3 separate regions of the Homo sapiens genome follow, and regions 2 and 3 are each linked to region 1. The links come from fine-mapping of genetic effects on gene expression. A gene starts in region 1. Each other region holds a variant in brackets. All regions are shown on one strand. Distances are from middle to middle. Region 1 holds the start of CMTR2 (cap methyltransferase 2). Region 2 has its middle 10 kb from the start of CALB2. Region 3 has its middle 22 kb from the start of CMTR2.

Region 1 (8,189 bases):
AAAATCTCATGGAACTTACACCATGCTTGAGTACAAAGTTCAGCATTCACAGATTTTCTAACATGAGAAATGATTTTCCCCGCTTTATTAGTGAAAGCAGTGTGCTCATGCCACTCATCCAGTTTCTTATCACTCAGTAGGTTTTTTACTTCATTTAGGGAGTTCTTCAAATCAAGAAATGCATTAAGTTCAGTGTGGTCACAGGTGAAAATCTCACTGGGATCTGGTAACTGCCACTCATTATTAAGTGGCTTGCCATAAGAAAAGTTCTTGGCAAAGAGTTCAAAAATGTCAGCAAGAATATCTGGGCTGAATGACGCGGGACTTGCTAGCTGCTGAACTGGTGTCTTTCTGCACTTACTCATTTTCAAATCAAATTAAAATCTAGGAAGAGAAAACACATAATTAAATGAATCAAATTTATTAGTGAGCGAAATCTCATGAGCAGCAAATACGATCACACTCATGACAAACTCCATAAAATGGGAAGGCTAAAGTCAGCATACTCTGTTATTTAACCAAGTAATCTGGAATAATGAAAAAGGCTTTGATATCCAAGACCTGGGTTCAAATTCCAGCTCTGCTAATTATGGCTTAATAAGCACCCTTGGGCAAATTCCATCTCTTGGATTTGGTTTCTTCTCATTAAAAAAAAAAGCCTATCATTTTTTAAGAAGAAGATAAAACATACTAGCATATAAAAAACATATAACAAAGCATAATCATCAGTGAATGACAGCTCTGATTATCATAGTAACCCATCTAACTCTTCCCCAAAGTTCTTCCCTACCAATGACTGTGACAACACCTACATGACCTCAAACAAATCCATCCTTAGAGATTCATCCCTGGACATGACCTTTGTTCAAGCTCTAACATGTGACTTTTCGTTTTTTTTTTTTTTAGTTCCCGTCATACTTTACCTCCTTCAGGGAGAGGATCATGTACCTGAACCCAGTACTGATCCTGCCACAAGCCACTTACCTCACTAGTAGGATTGTTGAATACATCCTCTGTCCAGATTTCATTCTCTAAGACAGGCACTTTGGTGGTACCAATCACCTATACAGGTCATCAACTAACGTTCATCATCATACTGCTTGTAAACTGTGCTGTACTTGAGTGGTTAGCCTTTTTCTGCTTGATGCTGAAAGTGACCAACTGTTTACCCGGTATGTCTCAAACTATAGATTCCTGGCTTTCATATGGTTCAGACAGCTCCACACTTCCACCATAACATATCATTATTTCTTCTAGCCACTAAAACTTAACACTTGGATAGCAGAATTTTATACTGAAGAAATATACATATTGAATATACAAATTACAAATAGTCACTCTACATACTCTGGCAGTCAACACTGCCAAAGAAACCAGAAACAAAGAAACCTCTTCCTTCTGAAGAGGAAAAAGGATATGAGAAGTATGGCTTAATGGCATAGTTTTGGAAAAGTTACAAATTCCAGCAGGGAGAGCAATGAATATTACATGGTACCTGTTAGTGCAATGTTAATCAATAGATGCTTTAGTTCACAAATTCTGCACTTATTTAGCATACACAATGCATTCTACAAATGATTTTCAAAAAAATCTGAATTTGTTAAATATGAAAAAATTGGCAATCAAATCATCACTCCAGAAAAGCAGATGTTCAAGGACAAAATGAGAAACAAAGGGAACTACTGCTGTAATACATACAATAATATTCAGATGATGTTTCTTTTAGCATTTACTTTGTACTGTTCTTTTAGCACACTTTTTTCATTCTTTCTTATTTTGTTTAAATTATTTGCAAGTCTACTCTACCAGTTTGTAATTTCCTTGAAGTAACAGGTGTCTTCTTAGTCATTTGTTTGCCACGGTATATTTATATTAAAAAAAAGTTTTTTTTTGAGACAGGGTCTCACTCTGCTACCCAGGCTGGAGTGCAGTGGCACAGGTCATAGCTCCCTGCAGCCTTGACCTCTTCCCAGGCTCAAAGGATCCTCCCACCTCAGCCTCCAAAGGAGTTGGGACTACAGACGTGCACCACCACACCCAGTTAGTTAAAAAAAAAATTGTGGAGATGGGGTCTTGCTCTGTTGCCCAGGCTGGTCTCAAAATCCTGGGCTCAAGCAATCCCTCCAACTCGGCCTTCCAAGGTGCTGGGATTACAGGTGTCAGCCACTATGCCTGTTTTTTGTTTGTTTCTTTTTTACTGGTAGAGCTATATTTAGACAAATTTCTAAAGGAAGACAAAACTGAGGTGTTTCCACATTCACTAAAATCTTAAAATAAGGGCATATAAAAGTTTTTTTCAACAAGCTCCTCTGTCTTAATTCGCATTGTGCTTGCTGGAAACTACAGCCATGTTTAGATCTCATCTATACTCTATTTCGGAAAAAGTCTAATTTTAATCATTAACTTCACATACTAATTAACGGCTGTAGTTAAGCTGTGAAACCTTACCTAAGCTAATAGGAAATTACCTTCACATGAGGACAACTTAAGTGATTCAGACACTCCACCGTTCTGACTATACTTTTGCTGTGTTGCCACCTAATTTTTATTACTACTCCCTTACTCACTACTCCAGCCAAACAGGCCTTTCTGCTGTTCACTGAAGACACCAAGCACATTCCAAGACAAAAGTCTTTCTGCATTGGTGGTCCCTCTGCCTGGAATGCTCTTTCCCCAGCTGTCAGCACAGCTAACTCCTTCACCTCCTTCCAATATTTGCTCAAATGTCATTTTCTCAGTGAAGCCTACCTAAGATTGCATCTTGCATTCCCCATGCCTCTTACCTCGCTGTATTTTTTTCCTATGGTACTCATGTACTTCCAACCTATAACTTCCTTCTTTTTGTTTACTGTTTATTATTTGTCTTCCCCAAACTAGAATGTAAGCTCCACAGGACAGAGATCTTTGTTTTGTTTACACATAGACCATTCCAAGAAGTTGGACATTGCCTGGTACACAGTAAGCACTCAGTATTACTGAATAAATGAGTGGATATCATACTTAGCACAAAAGGGATCTCTCTCTTCAGGTTCTGAATATGAGTCATTAATAGTGCACCTCAACTTCACTCCAGCACTTAAATGCATGACTTAAAAAAAAAAAAAAAAGCATGTGGCTTACAGCGTGTGTGGAAAAATTTTCCAGTATATGATCCTCTGAGCCTTTCATTAAACAGTCCTTTGAGCTTTGTGACATCATAATTCTGCTAAGTGGGTCGCTATTACCATTCTCATATTGCAAACTCAAGTAGGCAGTTATGTAGCCCCCGCCCAAATTAGTGAACCCAAAACAAAACCCACAAGATCTCATCAACAGTTTTTACCTCACAGCTGACACTTATAAAGGAGTTCCAAGTGCTTCCGCCAACTCCTCCTACCAGCAACTGTGAAAACAACGGCCAGTGAGTATCCAGGGCTGACTTTGGGCCGGGCACCCCATATCTCATTTCATCTAGTGAAGTAAGTCCCAAACCCCACTCCAGAGGCCCGGTCCCTGACCTGGAGGAAACTCAGTCCCAGCCCCTGGCTCACCCGCTGGGAAGTCGAAGGAGGGCCCGGAATCGTACCCAGGCCTGGATTACCTTCGCCCACGCCCACTGGGGCCCCAGTGTCTGGAGAGGCTGCACTTTACTCTCTCGAGGAAGCCATTCTGCACTTCCGCTCTCGGGGCTGCTTCCCGGGATGGTCCCTCCCTTTGGGTCCGCGGCGCCTCCAGCCACAAGGCAGGGAGATGGTGCGCCGGACTGGGGGGAAGGCTGTCCGGACCCGCCCTCGCGGCACCGGGAAGCCAGTCCCACCTCCGGGCCCCGCAGCCGCGAATGCCGGCAGACAGGGACCAGGAGGCACTCAAGTCCCACTGCGCACGCGCCCTGTAGGCCGGGCCGGAGTCACGTGCGCCAACGTTACGCACGCCGGCGACTCTCGCCTCGCCTAGGCCTCAGCTCCCTAGGTTTTGCTTCGCGGAGTACAGAAGCTGGGAGGCGCCAGCCTCCCGCCCCCGGCCACTATGGCAACGGAAGCGGCGCGCGCAGGCGGAGCATTCTTTGGCTCCGTCCCGAAGAGGGGTGAAAGGGAGAGGGACAGGGAGGCGAAGGGGAGGGGGAGGGGGAGGGAGGGAAGGGACGGGGCAAACCTGTCTGTCAGGACGTGCTGGTTCCGCTCACTGGCTGCTGGCCCCAAGGGCTTTCAGACTCTTCTGGACAGTTGTTACTTCCTGTACAGACTGGGTTGAAACTGCAGCTCAAAAGACGATAGGTTAAAAGCCAAACTAGGGAACTGCAAGATAAGATTGTTTATATATACATGACATAATATATATTAATTATGTTGCTTAATAAGCCAATAAGAAAAAGGCCAACAACCCCAGAAGGAAAATGAGCAAATATTAGAACAGGCCTCCCAAAAAACAAAAAAGTCAAACAAATAGCCACTAAGGATATACAAAACTGTTTAAACTATTATTAGACAAGAATGGAAATGAAAACAGCAAGTTTTCTTTTTACTCGGTTTAGCAAAGATGTAAAACCTTGGTAATGACCACTGTTGGTGTGACTATGGGGAAACAGGTTTACATCTGTGGATGGAAGAAAAACGTTATTAGAAACCTTACGGAAGGCAAACTTATTTATTTGTTTGTTTACTGAAACAAGGTCTTACCCTCACCCAGGCTGGTGTGCAGTGGCTCGATCTCGGCTCACTGCAGCCTCAACTTCCCCGGGCTCACGCGATCCTCCTAGAGAGATGGCATCTCCCTATCTTAGGCTGGTCTGGAACTCCTGGACTCAAGCGATCCGTTGGTCTCGGCCACCCAAAGTGCTGGGATTACAGGCATGAGCCAAGCCGCCTAGCCCAGAAGGCAAACGTTGAAAAGAGACATGCACTTTGGCTGGGCGCAGTGGCTCACGCCTGTAATCCCAGCATTTTGAGAGGCCGAGGCGAGCGGATCACGAGGTCAAGAGTCCGAGACCAGCCTGACCAACATAGTGAAACCCCGTCTCTACTAATAATGCAAAAAATTAGCCAGGCGTGGTGGCGGGCGCCTGTAATCCTAGCTACTTGGGAGGCTGAGGCAGGAGAATCGCTTGAACCCGGGAGGCGGAGGTTGGAGCGAGCCGAGATCTCACCACTGCACACCAGCCCGGGCGACAGTGCGAGACTCCGTCTCGGGAAAAAAAGAGGACATGCATTTTAACCCAGCAATTCCTCCTCCTCGCAGTTTATCCTTAGGAGATAATTAAACAGCTGGCACTCACTTTGGACAAAATGTTCATTTCAGCATCTCAATAACATAGCCAAATGGAAATACTCTAAATGTCTACTTTAAGAGAATTAATTAAATTATTACAGTACATCTATATAATGCACATATATGCATTATATGCAGCCATTAATAGGCTGTATGTGTCAACAGTATTGCATGAAAATAGAAGAATATTAGAATTATGTGTAGAGTTTTTAACCATTTATGTAAATAGATATATAGACATAAATGTAAAATTCATTTTTTACAAGTCTTCCAGAACATGGACCAATGGAGAAAAGATTATATTTTCACAAAATAGTGGTAGGTCATTTGTGTCTCTCCATGCAAAAAAAATTGTATTTGGACCCTCCTTACATCATAAACAAAAATACATTTCATTTGGATTGTCAGTCTGTATTTTAAAAGTTAATAAGAAAACATAAGAGAACATCTTTGCAACCTTGAAGTAGTCAAAAAGTTTATAACAGGACACAAAATACTAATCATAAAGGAAAAATGTATAAATTGAACTATATTAAAACTAAAAATATTTAGAGCCTGTAGTCCCAGCTCTAGGGAGGCTGAGGCAGGAGGATGGCATGAACCCAGGAGGTGGAACTTGCAGTGAACCGAGATTGCACCACTGCACTCCAGCCTGGGTGACAGAGCGAGACTCCGTCTCACAAAAAAAAAAAAAAAAAAAAAAAAAGAAAGCACGGGCTGGGTGTGGTGGCTTATGCCTGTAATCCCAGCATTCTGGGAGGCCAAGGCGGGCAGACTGCTTGAGTCCAGGAGTTTGAGACCAGCCTAGGCAACATAGTGAAACCCCGTCTCTACTGAAAAACAAAAAATTAACCTGGCATGGTGGTGTGCACCTGTAATCTCAGCTACAAGGGAGGCTGAGGTGGATCACCTGAGCCCAGGAGGTTGAGGATGCAGTGAGCTGAGATCACACCACTGCACTCTAGCCAGTACAACAGAGTGAGACCCTGTCTCAAAATAATAATAAAGTACAGGGATTTATTGCAAAGTGAATAGCATTTATACAAGTAAGTGCTATATTGTGTGGTACAAGTTAAGTGTTGTAGGAGTCTAAAGAATGAAGTTAGTAGGAAAAATATAGGAAAAGACTAGGGAAAAAGAAACTTTAATTTCTGTTCTTTTAAGGGTGAAGTTACGTGGGGAAGGGGAGTGCCAGCCTAGCTCAGGAAAATAATGAGTGAAAAAACAGGCAAGAGGACAGGTAATGTAGATTTGCAGAAAAGGGATGGAAAGTTAATACGTTTAAATGCTAAATAGGTGGCTTAGGTGCTATATATAGTGTCTTAGCTTGGGCTGTGTATTAGTCTGTTCTCATGCTGCTAATACAGACATACCTGAGACTGGGTAATTTATAAAGGAAAGAGGTTTAATGGACTCACAGTTCCACATGCCTGGGGAGGCCTCACAATCGTGGCAGAAGGCAAAGGAGAAGCAAAGGCACGTCTTACATGGCGGTAGTCAAGAGAACTTGTGCAAGGGAACTCCCCTTTATAAAACCATCAGATCTCATGAGACTTATTTACTATCATGAGAACAGCATGGGAAAAACCTGCCCCCCATAATTAAATTACCTGCCACCAGCTCTCTCCCACAACATGTGGGGATTATTACTTTAAGAGTTAAAGAAAGAGGAAAGAAATATGAAACAAGGCTTAACAGTCAAAGACAGGTTTATTTTAGAGAAAAAACCTGAGGGGGCTTCTGGCTGATTTTGGTCAGGAGCACTTTCTCTTCCCGACTAAGAGTATAAATTGGTTTTAGGGTGAGCAGGTTTATCACAAGCTTGGATGTTTCTTTGGGGGTGGGGGGAGAAGTTTATGGTGGGGTTGGAATGTTTCTATTATCTTGGCCTGACATCTTCCTGGCCAGAGGGGAGTTATCTGAGGCTAGCATCTTCCTGGCCAGAGGGGGCTTATCTTGGGGCTAGCATGTTTCTGATCAGGGAGGAGTTTGGAATGTTTCTGGTCAGAGATGTTATTTGTGGTTTATGTTCATGCTGACCTTAGCCATTAGGCTGATGCCCTTTGGATTTAGGTGGTTTTTGATTAAGGTGAATTTTTAAATGACAGTCCTTGTCCAAGATGGCGATACTCCTGCTCTGTCAATTATAATTCAAAATGAGATTTGGGTGGGGACACGGAACCAAACCATATCAGGCTGTTACAACAAATACCAGAGAGTGTGGCTTAAACATCAGAAATTTGTTTTCTCAAGTGGGAGATTAGAAGTTCGAGATTGAGGCTCTCTTACTGGCTTGCAGATGGCCAGCTTCTTGCTGTATTCTCACATGGTGGAGAGAAAGCAAGCTCTCTTGTCTCTTCTTCAAGAAGGGCACTAATCCCATCATGAGGACCACATCCCCCTGGCTTCACCTAAACCTAATTACCTCCCAAAGGCCCCATTTCCAAATACCATCACACTGGGGATTAGGGAATTTGGGAGGGTGGTGGGATTCAGTCTTTAGCAGGTATTGAGGAACCAGAGTACAGAAGACCATGGAAGGCAGACTGAGGCACCAGATCTGCTGCAATAAGAAATGGTCAAGAGGGAAAGAAATAACTAAGCTTGGTTCTTACAGAGTTAGGAACAGTCATGGCGTAGTCAAATGGAAATATCCATAGGGGAGCTGGAAATCAATGGGTGGCTAAAGTTCAGGTGAGAAAACTGAACTGAGGTAACACTCAGCCCTGTGGATTTTCAAGTACCTACTTTATTATTATTCATTATTAGCAATCATTATGATACTTAATTTAGTAGTGGAATCACTACCCAAAATTGTTAAAGCACTAGCCCTGGGGACTCTCACTTTTCATAGCTTGCCTAACACTGTGGGAGGCTGGGATCAACATGACTTTTTATTTTGAATAGGGAAGGGCATCAGCTCTGGCATCTCAATGCCTGGGTTA
Region 2 (8,189 bases), 59 kb after region 1:
GAGCCACCGTGCCAGGTGTAGAATATCATCCGGCCCTTTAACAAAAAAGTTTGCCAACCCTGCCTTAGATCAGATCCCCAGAAGCAGAGCTTGAGATGAGGATTTGGGTATAAACGACTTACCAAGCAAGTGCGACCAGGAGACGCCAAGGAGAAAGCAAGGGAGGCAGGACAGTGAAAGAAAAGAGGCCACCAAAGGTGTGATATCAGGCAAAGTCCTGCCCCAGCCTGCTCCTGTGGGAGACCTTCTGGGTCCCGTGCAGGTGAAGTGACTCAGGCAGGCCCTGAAGAGGCAGCAGGTGTGAGCTGGGAGGAGCAAAAGCCACGGAAGCTCAGTGGGGAGGCCCAGAACGTGTAACCGGGATTGCAGGGGATCCGGGCAGAACTCTGATGGGCTGGCTTCAGCTGTTAATCACTCCTCCAATTTATGACGCTTTTACAGGGACAAGGTCTTGGGCCAACATACATTCCCTTGTTTACTCCTTGCCACAGCCTTAGGGGTGGGAAGTATCTGAGGCCCACTTTGCAGCTGGGAATGAAATGAGATCACCCAGACAAGTACTCAGCCCAGCACCAACCCCATAGAAAGCACTCACTAAGAGGAAGCTGGATGTGTCTGGAAGCTGGTTGTGTACTGAGTTTGGGGTCACAGGGGTCATTGGGGTATCTAGCATGTAACTAGCAGGAACTTCTAACAGAGCCCTCGTCAGTCATCCTATCGGGGAGGTCAGAGAAGGAGGCTCTGGGGAATCTTGAAGGAGGGGTGGGAGTTGCCAAGTTGGGGAAAGAGATTTTTCCAACACAGGTCACAGCAACACAAAAGCTAGGCGGTGGGAAACAATGGGCACATTCCGGCAGCCTCGAGGAGTTCCGCGGAGGTGGAGTGAAGACTGAGAGGGGTGGTAGGGGGAGATGAGGCCGGGAGGAGGAGAGTACACCCTCAGGGATGGAGAGCCAACAAAGATTCTAAACGAGGAGTTCTGCAGTGAGACTGGCATTTTGGAACAATCGTCCTGGTTTTGGTTGAGAGCACAACTTAGAGAACAGAGGCTAGAGGTGGCAGGCTGGAGTGACAGCCTACTGCAGCTGTCCAGCCAATTAAGCCCTGTAGGAAGAATGGCTGATGCCGCAGTCTATGTGATGCTGAACTGCGGTAGCCAGGCTGACCTGGCCCCAATCCCGGGCTGTGACTGACCTTCAGATGCAGGCAGCAGAGAGAAGAGGACAAAAGTGCACCGCTGGGGAAAGGCAAGCAGCTGGCACCCAGGGCACCAAAGACCCGCACAGTGAGCATCAAGGCCAGCAAGGGCACAAAGCCAGCTGTCACCTGTCCTCTGGGCCAAGCCAAGGGGGGCTGGCCTCCTGGCCACCTCCTTGGGGGAGCAGTACCCCCATTGTCATGACTTGTTCACAGATTCCCAGACCTCCCAGTGCTATCAAGGGAGGTTTGTACTAGAGGTTGATTTATTTGTTATTTTTTTAATTGTGCATTTTTATGGATTTAGGGATACAAGTGAAATTGTGTTAATGGAAATATTGCATAGTGGTAAAGTTTGCCTTTTTGTGTACTCATCACTCTATTTGCTTTTTTTCGATTTTTGATTCTTTTTTTTTAGAGACAGGGTCTCATTCTGTTGCCCAGGTTGGAGTGCAGTGGTGCAATCATAGCTCACTGCAGCCTCGAACCCCTGGGCTCAAGCGATCCTCTGCCTTAGCCTCCTGAGTGACTGCGACTATGGGTGTGCACCATCACGCCTAGTTCATTTAAAAAAATTTTTGTGTAAAGTTGGAGTCTTGCTATGTTGCCTAGGCTGGTCTTTAACTCCTGCCCTCAAGGGATGCTCTTGCCTCGGCCTTCCAAAGAGCTGAGATTACGGACACGAGCTCCCATGCCCAGCCCATAGAAGCTTAGAGTTCACATCAAGAAGGAAGGCACCTTTTCTAACCTGCCCTTAGAGGTTCTGGGAGTCAATAATGTGGCTTGCATACTACCCATTCCCAGATGGTTCATCCCCACAGAATCTACTTCTCTATTTCCTCTGGTCCCGGGCCCTGAAGCATCCAAGCTTCCACCCTTTATAATTACAAATCACTCTCCCTCTGTGTGTGTGTGTGTTGCACATGTGCATGCACACACGTACAATCAGATACATTCCACAGTTCCTCAAATGCCACCACTGAAAGATTTATTCCTATAGTCCAACCTCCTGGGACAAGGAGGGTGCAATACATGAAGTCACCAACACCTTAGTGCGAATTTATTAATCAGATACTTCCCTCTGCATCAGCCAGATGTTAAGAAAATACCAATGATTCGAAGAGAAAGCTTACTGAAAAGGTATGGAATTTTTGGCAGGGGTGGGGAGAGAGGGGACCGTAGGCAGGAGGGATGTGACTTTCCTTTCCACCCAATCTTGGTCAGCCCAATGCTCTTAGTCAGGAGTCAGCAAACTTCATCTGAAAATGGCCAGATAGTAAATGCTTTCAGCTTTGCAAGCCATAGAGTTTGTTGCAACCACTCAGCCTGCCATTGTAGCACAAAAGTGACCAGAAACAATAAGCAAAGGGATGAGGGCAGCTGTGTTCCAAAACAACTTTATTTATGGACACTGCAATTTGGATTTCATATAATGTTCACAAAGTATTATTCCTCTTTTGATTTTTTCCAGCCATTTACAAATGCAAAAGCCATTCTTAGCTTGCAGACCACACACACACATACACACACACACACACACACACACACACGAGGTGGCTGGATCTGCCTGTGAGCCCTGACCCCTTTCCCATCTTGTTGAGATGCCCTCTCCCTAAGGACAAGCCGTCGGTCTTTCTTTGCTGGGTGCCATCCTTGCCTTCCCTTCTCCAGGCCTAGAGGGAAAAAAAGTGGCTCCTTGTTCTGTGTGCTTTGTCCACAATCCCTGGGGATCTGCTTTCAAGTGTGGAGGTGATGACAGGGTGACAAATGGCTGGCGTGCAGGTAAGCCACCGGCGGTGGGCTGCCGCAGAACAGTGGCCGTAGGGTTCACACCAGTTGACTGAGAAGTGAGCCCAGGTGGGCCCCATCTGCCTGCCACTCCCCAGCCCACATCCCATGCATCAGGCCTCATCAGGTCCATCTGCTACACTTCTGGGACACTCTTCAGGCACCTCTCACAAATCCAAAGACTATTTGTTGTCATTATTACCACCTGACTTTACACATATCATTCCCATTAATAAAAATACAATACTCACTTCTTACTGAGTACTTAGTCTGTGCCAGGCGAGAGCTAAGCTCTCTGGCTCGTATTCACTAAGTGGGCCAGGCTCCGTGTGAAGTGCTTTGCACGCAACCAGTGCGTTCAGGCACCTACGGCTTCAGTGCTATTATTAACTTCATTTCATGGATGAGAAAACGGAGGCCAGAGAAGCTCACAGCACCCAAGGTCACAGAGCTGGGCGGGTCTGTGTGTGACTCTAAAGCCAGGTTCTTTGTCACCGGGCACCCCCGCCTCTCCCTGTCTGACAGCCATTCTGCAAGACTGTATTAGGATTCCAGGTCTTTGGATGCAGAAATAGAAACTCCGAGAAGTCAAATTGTTAGTCCAAGTTCATACAGTGGACAAAGGGTGGTGTGAGAATGCTTTGTTGGCATGCCACTGATGTGAAGAGATGTAGGGGCACCTGCCTGTATGTGAAAATGCATGTTTCTGGAAGCTTCAGAAACTTGGGTTCTAAATGAAGGGTTAGGGCTTCAACAAGTGGTGAGAGACAAATTTTAGCCTGAGAGAATGTCTTGGGTCTGTTGGAAAAGTCTTGTGCAGTTGTGTTATCATAGAAGGGCTCTAAAGTATGTAAAGAGACATAGGAGAAGGCTGGGCAAGGAAGAAGTAGAGGTGCAGGTTCTGCTGAAGTCTGGCCCCAGCCGGATCCCATGGGAAGCTCTGGGGCATGAAGGGTACTGCAGGGTTTCCCCACCTCAAGGCAAGGCGCTCAGCCTCTATACCTCTTATACATCAGTAATTGGCTATGGATTGTCCCATGGTTGGGGTGGGAGGAGCACCTCTGTGCAAGGTGACAATTCTCCGGAGAATGGTCCAGGTCTGAGCCTTGGCACCCAACACCCACAGCAGCCGGGGAATGGTGCACGATTGTCAGAGGGGATCTTGGCAGGTATCATTGGCATCTCCTGTGAGTGGGAGACCCAGGAGACCCAGGTGTCACTAACTGGCTCCGCAGTCCCTCGAAAATCACTATGCCTTTCTCCTTCCTACCCTCCACCTCTGTCTTCCTCTCTTCCCTCTTGATCTTCTACCTGGTGGGCTGAGCCGGGCCTAGGCTTCTGGCTCTCGTATCAGACCATCGGCAATGACGGCCAATCTGCAGACTCCAGGAAGCACCCCAGTTTGGCTTCTTCCGAGCTCGGCCTGCTCACCACTTGCCCCCTCCTGTGGCCTGCCTGTCAGGGGATTCCCACTGACGTGCTCGGGAAGGCAGCTCAGGGAGCAGCTATGAGGCAGGCAGCTCCTCCTGACCAGACGGTGCCGAGGCCCCCAGCAGGGCAAGCAGCTGCCCTCCGGACGGCAGCCCAAGTGGGCTTGCTGCCAGGCACTTGCTTAACAGGAGCTGAGCTGTCCCGGTGCGTGCAAGGGGTCATTTCTAGAGCTTCCAGAAGGGTCTCGACTCTATACACAGAAACATCCTTTTCCACTCCTGTGATCTTCATTCAGTCTTTCATTCATTCAACAATTATCTCGGCTGGGCACGGTGGCTCATGCCTGTAATCCCAGCACTTTGAGAGGCCAAGGCGGGCGGATCACAAGGTCAAGAGATCAAGACCATCCTGGCCAACATGGTGAAACCCCGTCCCTACTAAAAGTACAAAAAATTAGCTGGACGTGGTGGCACAAACCTGTAGTC[C/T]CAGCTACTTGGGAGGCTGAGGCAGGAGGATCACTTGAACCCAGGAGGCAGAGGTTGCAGTGAGCCAAGATCGCACCACTGCACTCCAGCCTGGCGACAACGCAAGACTCCATCTCAAAAAAACAAAACAAAACAAAAAACAAACAAAAACAAAACAAAACAATTATCCCTTGAGTGCATTTGGGCCATGAATGGTGCTGCAAGCTAAGAAGAAAAGTGATGAGCAAAATAGACAAGGTAGACAAGGTCCTACCTACCTCCATTCTAGCTGGGGAGACAAATAAGACTGGGCACAGTAGGGTCACAGATTCACTCCGTTAGACGTGCAAAGAAAATATCGTTCCTTTGTTTTACTGTAATTGATCTGATCTTCCTCAAGGGAAGGGCAGATGGGGTGAAGAAATATCTTAAACTTGCCCATTTATGGTTCTAGCCAACATGTCCATCTTAGAAGGAACTACTTTCTCTTTTAGTGAGACTCATGGATCTGAAACTTGAAGAGCAAAGCTACGGACACCTTCAACCTTGGAGCCATTGCCTCTGCCCTGAGTAGCTACTGGGCATGGGAGCAGTGGGAAATGGGCTTGGAGATAGCACCTGAGGACCCCCGAGGTAAAACCAGCCAAGTGTGTAAGGCTAGGCCAGGTGCAGTTTCAACACCCAGGGGTTCTCAAATTTACCTCTCTAGCCCAGACCTCTCCTCCAAACTCTGGCTCCATAAATCCCCCTGCCTGGTCTATGCATTCCCTTAGATGATGTTGTAGTCAGCTCAGACTTCTATAACAAATATACCATAGACTGGGTAGCTCAAACAACACAAACTTATTTCCCCCAGTTTTGGAGGCTGGGAAGTCCAATTTCAAGATGCCAGCAGATCCAGTGTCTGGTGAATATCCACTTCCTAGTTTGCAGATGTATCTTCATATATCTTCATGTATCTTCATATGGCAGAGGGCACAGAAAGAGATTCTGTGTCTCTTCCTTTTTTTTTTTTTTTTTTTTTGAGACGGGATCTAGCTCTGTCGCCAGGTTTGAGGGCAGTGGCATGATCTCAGCTCACTGCAACCTCCGCCTCCCAGCTTCAAGCGATTCACCTGCCTCAGCCTCCTGAGTAGCTGGGACTACAGGCGTGCGCCAACAAGCCCAGCTAATTTTTGTATTTTTAGTAGAGATGGGATTTCACCATGTTGGCCAGGCTGGTCTTGAACTCCTGATCTTGTGATCCGCCCACCTCGGCCTCCCAAAGTGCTGGGATTACAGGCGTGAGCCACCACGCCCTGCCTTTTCCTCTTTTTATAAGGGCATTAAGCCTATTCATGAGGGCTCCACCCTCATAATCTAATCATGCCCCAAAGACCCCACTCTGAATACCATCGTATCAGGGGTTAGGCTTTCAACATCTGAATTTTGAAGGGATACAAACATTTGTCCACAGTAGATTGATTCAAAGACAACTCAAACTCAACACATCCAACAAATGCAGGGTGTATCCTTCTCAAATCTAGTCCTCTGCCAGCATCGCCCATCTCAGTCAGTGTCTGCTTTTCTCCCAGGTGCCAATACCAACTGGGAATCGCCCTCTCCCTCACTGTCCATATCCAACTCATGGCCAAATCCTATTTTCTGCCTACAAAGTTCCTGATCACTTTGCTCCATGACCACTGCCCCTCTGGAGGCCCAGGTACGGCCGTGTTTCCCAGACAGTCTCGGGAGTCACCTGATAGGTTTCCCTGTGTCCACTTAGACTCCTCGCTAGTCACCCCCTACACAGGAGCCAGAGGGAGACCATAATCCTGGTTATGTTTGTTGCTGGCAGAAAACCCTTTGATAGCTCCCAGTGCTCTAGCGTCTGGCCCTGCCAACCTCTCCAGGGTCACCTCCACCATGCACCCACTCGTCCCACTGATCTCCCATCCCTCTGGCTTTCTTACAGCTCTGCCAGCACGGAGCCTTGGTGCATGGGGTTTAAATCCAGGAATGCTCACCTCCTCCCTCCTCCTGGTTAGTTCACTCTCAGGATGGCTTCCTACTCATGCTAGATACGGTCGCTCCCTGATATTCACTCTGTTTTCACTTATATGTGTGATTGTGTGGTTTGATCAATGTCTGTCTCCCTCACTGGACTTTAAACTCCTGAAAGGAGGAATCATTTCTGTTTTGCTAGTACAGTGCCTGGCACAAAGTAGCTGGCTAATCAATATTTTTTACACAGCATGAATGAATAAAATTTGTAATGAATTCATGAGTGAATGAAATGCAGCCCTTATCTTTGAACATCTCATTCTCACATTCCTGCTGCATTCTGGGGAATCCTGGAAGTGGGGCACTGTCCCTCTAGGGACATTTTTCCCATCCTTAGTAAAGGAGTCCAAATTCCTGGCCACCTGGAAGTCCTGTTCTGGCAGGAAATAGAGCAAATTTGTTTGCAAATCAAGCCCAGGGCTCCCTGCCAGGCCCCCAGGCAGAGCCAAGCCGGCCTCACACGGACGCCCTGTGGATTTGCACTCATGCACGCTACATTTCCTTGTGTCCTCCTTGCCTGCACCTTTCTCTTCGTCCTCCACCTCCTTTCCTTAGAAATCCCATCTCACTATATGGAGTGATATGATCAACTTCCAGCTCAGCTCAGAGAAGATGAAGGGACTCTTCTAGATTAGCCAAGCACATTGGTGGATCTGGAACCCAGTTATTCCGAGAGCCCACTCGACAAAAAAGAGAACAAAAACAGCCAACACCATCGACCCTGTGCCAATCACGGTGCTAGGTAATTTGCATAGATTATTTTATGGAATCATTACAACAATCCTTCTACACAGGTTTCATTAGGATTAGAGAGAACCTAGAATTCATTTACTAGATGAGGGCCAGTAAACTATGTCCCACAGGCCAAATTAGGTCCACCAAGTTCTTCTTCTTCTTCTTCTTATTATTATTATTATTACTACTACTACTAAAAGAAGTATTATTGGAACAGAGTCATATTGCTCTGTTTACATATTATCTATAGCTGCTTTTGCACTATAATACCAGGGTTGAGTAGTTGAGACAGAGAACCTACGGCCCACGAAGCAGCCCCCCTCAAAAAAAATTCCTATTTAGCCCATTACAAAAAAAAAGTTTGCCAACTCCTGTTTTAGATGACACCCTTCCCCCAGACTCTCCCTTTTATATTTGAATTCGTTTGTCCGAATGTTTTTTTTTCACCCAATGTTAAAGCAAACATGTTCCGCAGCTTGTTTGAATTTTCTGTGTTGAGCACCCAACACTAGAGGTGTCAGTTACTTTCAC
Region 3 (8,189 bases), 22 kb before region 1:
CTAAAATGGGAAGAATCCTCAGTTCTGGGAATCCCCGCCCCTTTCTTGGAAAACTCATGAATAATCCACCCCTTATTTAGCATATGATCAAGAAATAAACATAAAAATGCCAACCCGCTTTTTATGGAGCAGCCATTCTTTTGCTTACTTCCCTAATAAACTTGCTTTCACTTTACTCTATGGACTCCCCCAGAACTCTTTATTGCAAAAGATCCAAGAACCCTTTCTTGGGAGTCTAGATTGGGACTGCTTTCCAGTAAGAAATACACCCCATAGCTTAGGGGCTTAAGAAATGAAGCTGCTTTGGAAACCTGAAAATTATTTAGATTTCACAAATGGCTCATGATGCCACGGAGAGTTATTTCCCTTTTGGCATCCTGGTTTCTCTAGTCAGTGAAAATCCTACACTTACAAAGTAGAAAGTTCAAAACAGTTTCTGATCTTTTAAACACACGTACTATATAAGCACAAAGATAGTTACAACCCCAACTAAAAACAATCATTTAGAACTGAATCTCAAATTCATATGTTTGTAGTTCATAATCTATCTGTAGTTGACCAAGAAGGTAAAATAAATTATTGGGTAGATGTAAGCTAAGATCAGTCATTGCCCTTAGTCTAGAACTTCTGATTAGATTGGTAACTCCCATGGCACTCCCCCAAGGCTCTAAGTGGTCCTGAGTAGCTTTAGAATCTGAATAAATCACACATACTAGGGATCCATCGAGACCACTAGAAACTCAATTTATTTGTGACCTGAGGCAGGATTTTATTGCTTCTCAGATTAACAGTTAAAAACGTTTTGCTTTTCTGCCTCAGGGGTATTCGTTTGATGTATGAGGCAGGGAGATTATTAAATCTTTGCTACCTTCCAAAGATGTAAATTAAACCACAGCACCTCCTTAGCCACTTTCCCTGTATGAACTGCTTATTTATTAACTTGTCACTCTTGCATGCTCATCAAAACAACCACACCTATGATTAATTATTCCTGTTTATTTAAGGGTGCTTGTCATTCTAACTTTTTGCGGACAGGATATTTACAAAGTCTCCTGATTTCTTTGCAGAACTGTGGCATGAAGACTTTTAAAGGACTAATCATTTCTATGGATATATTTTAAAAGAACAGTGGCATGAATGTAACTATATCTTGTTCTATTCATTTTAAATAAAGCTGCCCTTCATTTTGGCTTCCCTTGCCTGGTCATGAACATCATATTGGCTGATTTTGTCCATCTGGACATCTCCAAAAGACTTTGAAGAGGTTCGACATTAAATGGTCCAACATAAACTCTAAAGTTATTTTTTCAATTTTGTCACTCACAATTCAATTCAATGTAGACAGTATTTATTTATCTTCTATGTGGCAAGCAGCAAATATGGATTTGTTCATTCATTCCTTCATACAATATTTATTTAATGTATTTTATCTGCCAGTAATGGCAGTAGGCATATTGTTCACTGTTCAAAACAGTGAACAGTCCTTTCCTCCACTGGATTTACAGCCTTGTTACTACCCTTCCCAAGGCATTTGTCTCTACATATTATGAGCAGGAGATAATAAAACGACAATGAGAACCTGGATAAAAGGGAAGAAAAGCACAGTGTTCTCCCTCTGAAGTTTGCACAGAATACACAGTAAATTGAGTCAGGTTTAAGAAGACACCTGCAAGGCTCTTCCCCCATCCTGGTCCAGAGTGGGTCTGCAGGACTGAACTGCATTGAAACTATGGCATTTCACCTCTTTCTGTTCTCCTTGACCTGCCATATCATAGATCATCTGGTTTGCTGAATAATCACTGAACCAAAAAGTTTTCAAATGAATTTTGGAGGCACAGCTGCCTAGCCTCTGCCACAAGAAAAAAATCACCTTACTAGTTTAAATGGTTGAATAATCATCTTATTTTTTTTTTTAAGATATAGGTTCCTGATCATATCCTTGTCTCTCTTTAAAAGTTTTTATTTTCTTGGGAGGCCAAGGGAGGAGGATCACTTGAGGCCAGAAGTTCAAGACCAGCCTGGTCAACATATCAAGATCCCATAACTACGAAATGTAAAAAATTAGCCAGGTATGGCAGTGAACATCTGTAGTCCTAGCTACTCAGGAGGCTAAAGCAGGAGGATCGCATGAGCCCAGGAGTTCAATGCTGCAGTGAGCTGTGATCGTGCCACTGCACTCCAGCCAGGGCGATAGAGTGAGACTTTGTCTCAAAACAAAAAGTTTTATTATGGAAATTGTCAAACAGAAAACAATTAAGATAATAAAATAATGAATCCCCAAATACCTATCACCTAGCTTCAGTGATTATCAAAATTTTGCTGTTCTTGTCTTTACCTACCACCTTTCTCTCTCCCTTCACTTTTCTTTTTGTGTTTGAGTATTTTAAAATAAACCTCTAGCTGGACATGGTGACTCACGCCTGTAATCCCAAAACTTTGGGAGGCTGAGGGGGGTGGATCACCTGAGGTCGGTACTTTGAGACCAGCCTGACCAAAATGAAGAAACCCCGTCTCTATTAAAAATACAAAATTAGCCAGGCGTGGTGGCGCATGCCTGTAATCCCAGCTACTCGGGAGGCTGAGGCAGGAGAATTGCCTGAAGCCAGGAGGCAGAGCTTGCAGTGAGCCAAGATCGCGCCATTGCACTCCAGTCTGGGCAACAAAAGTGAAACTCCGTCTCAAAAAAACAAACAAAAAGAAACCTCTGCTATCACACCATTAAACCTCCAAATCCATTAGAACGTATCTCTAACAAAAAATAAGATTTTAAAAACATAACTATAATATCATTGCAATATCTAACAAAATAATAACATTACTTTAATACCTTGTAATCCCTAGCCCAAGTTCAAATGCTCCTGATTCTCTAAAAAAAAATCCTTTTGGATTGAAATAGGATCCAAACAAGGTCTACACATTAGATTTGGCTGATATGTCTTTCACTTACACCTGTTCTCTCCATGTCCTTTTGAATATCACCAAAATGATCTTCAATATTTGATTTTTATCCAGGATAACTAAATCTGTCCAAACCTAACATATGCTGCTGGTGAAACCTCATTATGTAATATTTTTCAAGGACAAACTACCAAAAGAAAAGGTGATCATACAAGTTATCATGCAAACAGAGAAACTGAGTGAAAAGTGAGTGCTGTTAATAATTATACTGGTGTAAACCAGGACGAACAGTCACCCTATGAATAGAAGATATTAGGGGTAAAAAGGAGGATCAGGTTTCTGGCTTCAACTCTGGAGCTGGGGAGCTGGAAAAGAACTAGAAAGAATACCTCTCCCACCCTTAAAATTAATAAAAAAAATAAGTTGAACGAACTTCAAGTTAACAACTTTTCTTGGATCCATCAAAGAGTTGAAGAAACAACTAGTTTATTTGAAGAAGCACCAACTAGCCCAAAATCAAAGTAAAGAGAAGTGCCTACAGGAAAAGTCAGATGCAAGCATTTGTTTACGTGGGGCAGTTGAACACCCAGAAGAACTGTGAAGAAACTGGTGGAATCTGAGTATTGGCAGGTGACAGAATATGGCCTCAGATACAAAGGGAGTTTACACCACTCACAGGCTTCTCTCTACAGGCCCTAGTGGGTGCTCATAAACAATGATGGCAGCAGTGCTGAGAAGACATGCTTAGGGGAGGGGAGAAGCAGTTGTTGCAGGAAGGGCGTGGATACCTGCCCAGATCCTTCTTCCCTATCTCCCCTGTTAAAACAAAAGCAATACAAGAAAACCCAACAACTTCACCTAGAGTGGGGAATAAGAGCAACAAGCACTATTGCCCTTAGAGCACTCCTGAATACCAACTGCAGCTTTGGGAAGGAAATTGTTAAAAAAAAAAAAATCCTCCACACCTCAGGGAGGAGCAGGAGTATATGCTGGGCTCAGAACTATCACTGGGGAGAAACAGAAGCATGAAAAAGGTCACACTCCTGAGACCCAGAGACACAGTATCCACTCAACACTGAGGCTTAGTTAGAACGACAGGGAACACTTCCTTCACCTGCCACCACCAGAGCAAGAAGCATCACACAGCAACAGCAGACGACTGCTGAGAGGGCCCAGAGAGAAGCAAGGACATGGAGAGAAACTCTCTGGGGTCACTGCATAAGGAGAAAGTGTAAGGCTAAGGGTAGGCCCAACATTGAGAAAAGTCTATTCAGTGGGTAAACCAGCCCTGCTCCTAATACAACATTTTATTAGAAGAATTTGAAGTCTCTGGTACACTGAGGATAGCCCTATGAACAACAAACCCCCAAAGCCACCTCAACGCCTGTCTAGGTTGATTCACATTCCACACTAAAAATCTAGAAAAAGAGGCCAGGCGCGGTGGCTCACGCCTGTAATCCTAGCACTTTGGGAGGCCAAGGTGGGTGGATAGCCTGAGGTCAGGAGTTCAAGACCAGCCTGGCCAACATAGTGAAACCCTGTCTCTACTAAAAAATATATAAAAAATTAGCTGGGCGTGGTCGTGGGCACCTGTAATCCCAGCTACTAGGGAGGCTGAGGCAGAAGAATCGCTTGAACCTAGGAGGCAACGGTTGCAGTGAGCCAAGATCGTGCCATTTCACTCCAGCCTGGGCAACAAGAGTGAAACTCCATCTCAAAAAAAAAAAATCTAGAAAAGGAAAAAATGTACCCCATTTGCAGGCATAAAAACTATTTACCTCAATCAGTGCTGTCCAGTGTTCAATAAAAAAGTAAATAAAGTACGTGGTATATAAAACAAAAACGAAAATAAAAAGCCCCACAATGCCAAGAGACAAAGCAATCAACGGAACCAGACTCATATATGACACAGATATCGGAACTATTAGATAAGGAATTTAAAATAGCTATGACAAATATATTGAAGTGTCCAGTGAAAGAACTGGACAACA[C/T]GCATTGTCAGATGGGTAATTTCAGTAGAGATAATGAGAACTGTAAGAAAAAAATCTAATGACGCTGTTAAAAGTGAAAAACGCAGTAAAAGATCAAGACCAAGTGACATCAAGACTGTCACTGACAGGCTCATCAGTAGACTTGACAGTGCTAAGGGGAGAGTTGGTGAACTTGAAATCATCCAACCTGAAAGAGAATAAAGAGTAAAAAATAAAAACAGCACCAAGCATCCAGAAACTATAGGACAATATAAAATGATCTAACAGATGTATAGCTAGAATTCCAGAAGGAAAAAAGAGACAGAAATGAGGTAGCATAAATATAAGAAGGGATAATGCCTGAGAATTTCCAACATTAATGACATACATTGAACTACAGATCCAAAACAACAACCAAGATAAATACCAAGCCAGAGATAGACATATCATATTCAGGTTCTGAAAACACAAAACAAAGTCTTGAAGGAAACCAGCAGGGGTAAAAAAGACACATTAACACAGAGAAATAAACAGCCCATCTTATTAGAAAGCATGCAAGTCGGAAGACAATAGAGTAACATTTTCAAAGGACTAAAAGAAAAAATAGTGTCAATACAGAATTCCCTACCTGGTGAAAATATCTTTCAAAAATAAAGGATAAAAAGACTTTCTTAGAAAAAAAAACTAATTAAATTAACTGTCATCAGTACTAAACCATAAAAATTTTAAAGAATATTCTTCAGAAAAGAGAAATTTGATACCAGATACATACATTTAGATGAAGAAACAAATAATGCTAGACATGGCATAAATAAAAATAACAATTTTGCTTTTATCAGTTTTAATTGCTCTGAAAAGGAACAATTTAAGCAAAAAAAGTGGAATTATATTGTGCCTTGTAGCATACATAGAAGTAACATAGGAGACAAAAATAGCACAAAGAATGAGACAGACTGATTGGAAACATGAGTATAAGGTCCTCATAGCACACATAGGAGTATAATATTACTTGAGGGTAGACTTTGATTAATGTGTTATATTGTAACTACTAAAAACTTTTTAAGAGCTATAGGTAGTAAGTCAATACTATAGATAAATAGATGAAATAATAAAAACTGCTCACTTAACCCAAAAAAGGCAGAAAAAAATGAAATATAAAGAATTTATAGAAAACAGGTAGCAAGACAGATTTTAATCCAATATCAGTATTCACATTAAATGCAAGCAGTTAAAACATCAATTGAAAGGAAGATTTTCAGATTAGATTAAAAAGGAACCGTATGCTGTCTACAAGAAACCCACTTTAAATATTTTGAAAATGAAAACTAAACACATGAGATGCCGCTAAAACCATGCTTAGAAGAAAATTCATTGCATACAGTGCTTATATTTAAAAAGAAGAAAGATCTCAAATCACTCACCTAAGCTTCGACCTAAGAAACTAGACAAAGAAGAGCAAATAAAATCCAAAACAAGCAGAAAGGAGATTTTAAAATACAGCAGAAATCAATAAAATTGGGACAAAGTACACAAAAATAAATAAAACCAAAACCTGTGTTTTTAAAGAGATCAATAAAGTTGATAAAAACCCTAGCCAGATGGAGAAGGAGGAGGAGGAGGAAGAGGAGGAGGAGGAAGGGAGGGAGGGGGAGAAAGAAAGAGGAAAAAGAAAGAGACAGAGAGAGAGAAAGGAAGGAAGGAAGGAAAGAAAGAGGGAGGGAGGGAGGGACGGAAAGAAAGGAAAGAAAGGGAGGGAGGGAGGAAGGAAGGAAGGAAAAAAAGGAAGGAAGGAAGGAGAAAAAGGAGAAGGAGAAAACTGAAATTACGAATTTCAGGAGTTAAAAAGAGGATGTCACTACAGATGCCACAGATATTAATAAGATAAAAGAATAGTATGAAAGACTCAATGCCCATAAATGTAAAAACTTGCATGATATGGAGCAATTCCCTGAATGATATCAACTACCAAAACTCACTTAACAAGTCAACCAGGACAGTTGTATATCGATTAAAGAAATGAAATTTGTAGTTAAAAACCTTCTAACAAACAGAAATTCCAGTCCCAGATGGTTTCACTAGAGAATTATACCAAACACTTAAGAAAGAAAAATCAATTCTACAGAATTTTTTCCAGAAAAATAGAAGAAAAGAGAACACTTCCCAGAAAATAGAAGAAAAGAGAACACTTCCCAAAGCATTTTATGAGGCCAGCATTACTCTGATGCCAAAACCAGACATTACAAGAAAAGAAAACTGCAGACCAATATTTATTATGAACATAGATATCAAAATTCTCCAAGAAATTTATCAAATCAAATCCAGAAATATATGAAAGAGATAAGCCAAGTGGAGTTTATCCCAGGAATACAAAGCAGATTCAACATTCAAAAATTAGCCAATACAGCTGGGTGCAGTGGCCTCACGCTTGTAATCCCAGTGCTTTGGGAAGCCAACAGGGAGGATGGTTTGAGCCCAGGAGTTCAAGACCAGCCTGGACAACATAGTGAGACCCTCATCTCTACCAAAAAAAAGGTTGTTTTTTAATCAGCCAATATAATTCACCATCTTAACAGTCTAAAGAAGAAAAACCACATGGTCACCTCTACAGTTACAGAAAAGGCATTTGACAAAATTCAACATCCATTCATGTGTTTTCTTTTAATCTCAACAAAATAGGAATAGAAGGAAACTTTCTTAATAGGATGAAGGACTTTTACTGAAAAACCCTACATCTAATACCATAATTATAAAAGACCATTTCTTCCTAAGATTAGGACTAAGGCAAGGAAGTACTGCCTCACAGCACTCCTACTCAACATCATAGTGGAAGTCCTAGCTAGAGCAAAAAGGCAAGAAAATGAAATAAAAAGCAGAGAGAGTGGAATAGAAGAAATAATAAGTACACAAATAAACGACTCAAACTAAGAAAAACAAAACCAGATTCTGTGTTACAGAATGGTGATGGTTGGGGAAGGTGAATGGGGCTAGGGCTTAGGTGATCTGTGAAAGTCTTTCTGAGAAGATGATATTTGAGATGAAATTTTAAGGATAGAGTAAAGCCAGCCATGAAAAAAAAATTACACACACACACAATGAATTTGTATGTTATGATCTATCCAGGATTTCTCACATCCTAAACTTACAGCTTCAGAACTCACTCCTCACTGCCTCTCTCTAAGTTCTCCAATTGCAAAAGACTCTGATCAGCTGAAATCATCTTTTGGTCTTACATTCCAGAGAGCTGACCAAACTTGGTCCAATCAACTGATAAGGGAGAGGGTGGGCTGGAAGGTAAGAAGGTCACAAGGTTTAAGCAACAGG

Evidence for each region. PIP is the estimated chance that this variant, and not a neighbour inherited with it, causes the effect.
Region 2: its variant is fine-mapped to the expression of CMTR2 in subcutaneous fat (GTEx, PIP above 0.99).
Region 3: its variant is fine-mapped to the expression of CMTR2 in whole blood (INTERVAL, PIP above 0.99).

The regions. Positions count from the first base shown.
Region 1 is chr16:71,285,556-71,293,744 of GRCh38, forward strand. It overlaps CMTR2 (cap methyltransferase 2), which reads right to left and starts at 3,847. Exons shown (of 3, transcript NM_018348.6): 1 at 3,581-3,847; 2 at 3,323-3,382; 3 at 1-384. The coding sequence starts at 365. LOC102723786 (a long non-coding RNA gene) reads left to right here and starts at 3,245. Exons shown (of 4, transcript XR_933707.3): 1 at 3,245-3,400. RefSeq lists silencers at 3,600-3,969, 4,050-4,119.
Region 2 is chr16:71,344,372-71,352,560 of GRCh38, forward strand. No RefSeq gene overlaps it. Among named protein-coding and RNA genes, the nearest start is that of CALB2, 10 kb to the right of the region's middle. The variant C/T (reference allele first, on the strand shown) is at 4,902.
Region 3 is chr16:71,263,774-71,271,962 of GRCh38, forward strand. No RefSeq gene overlaps it. Among named protein-coding and RNA genes, the nearest start is that of CMTR2, 22 kb to the right of the region's middle. The variant C/T (reference allele first, on the strand shown) is at 4,890.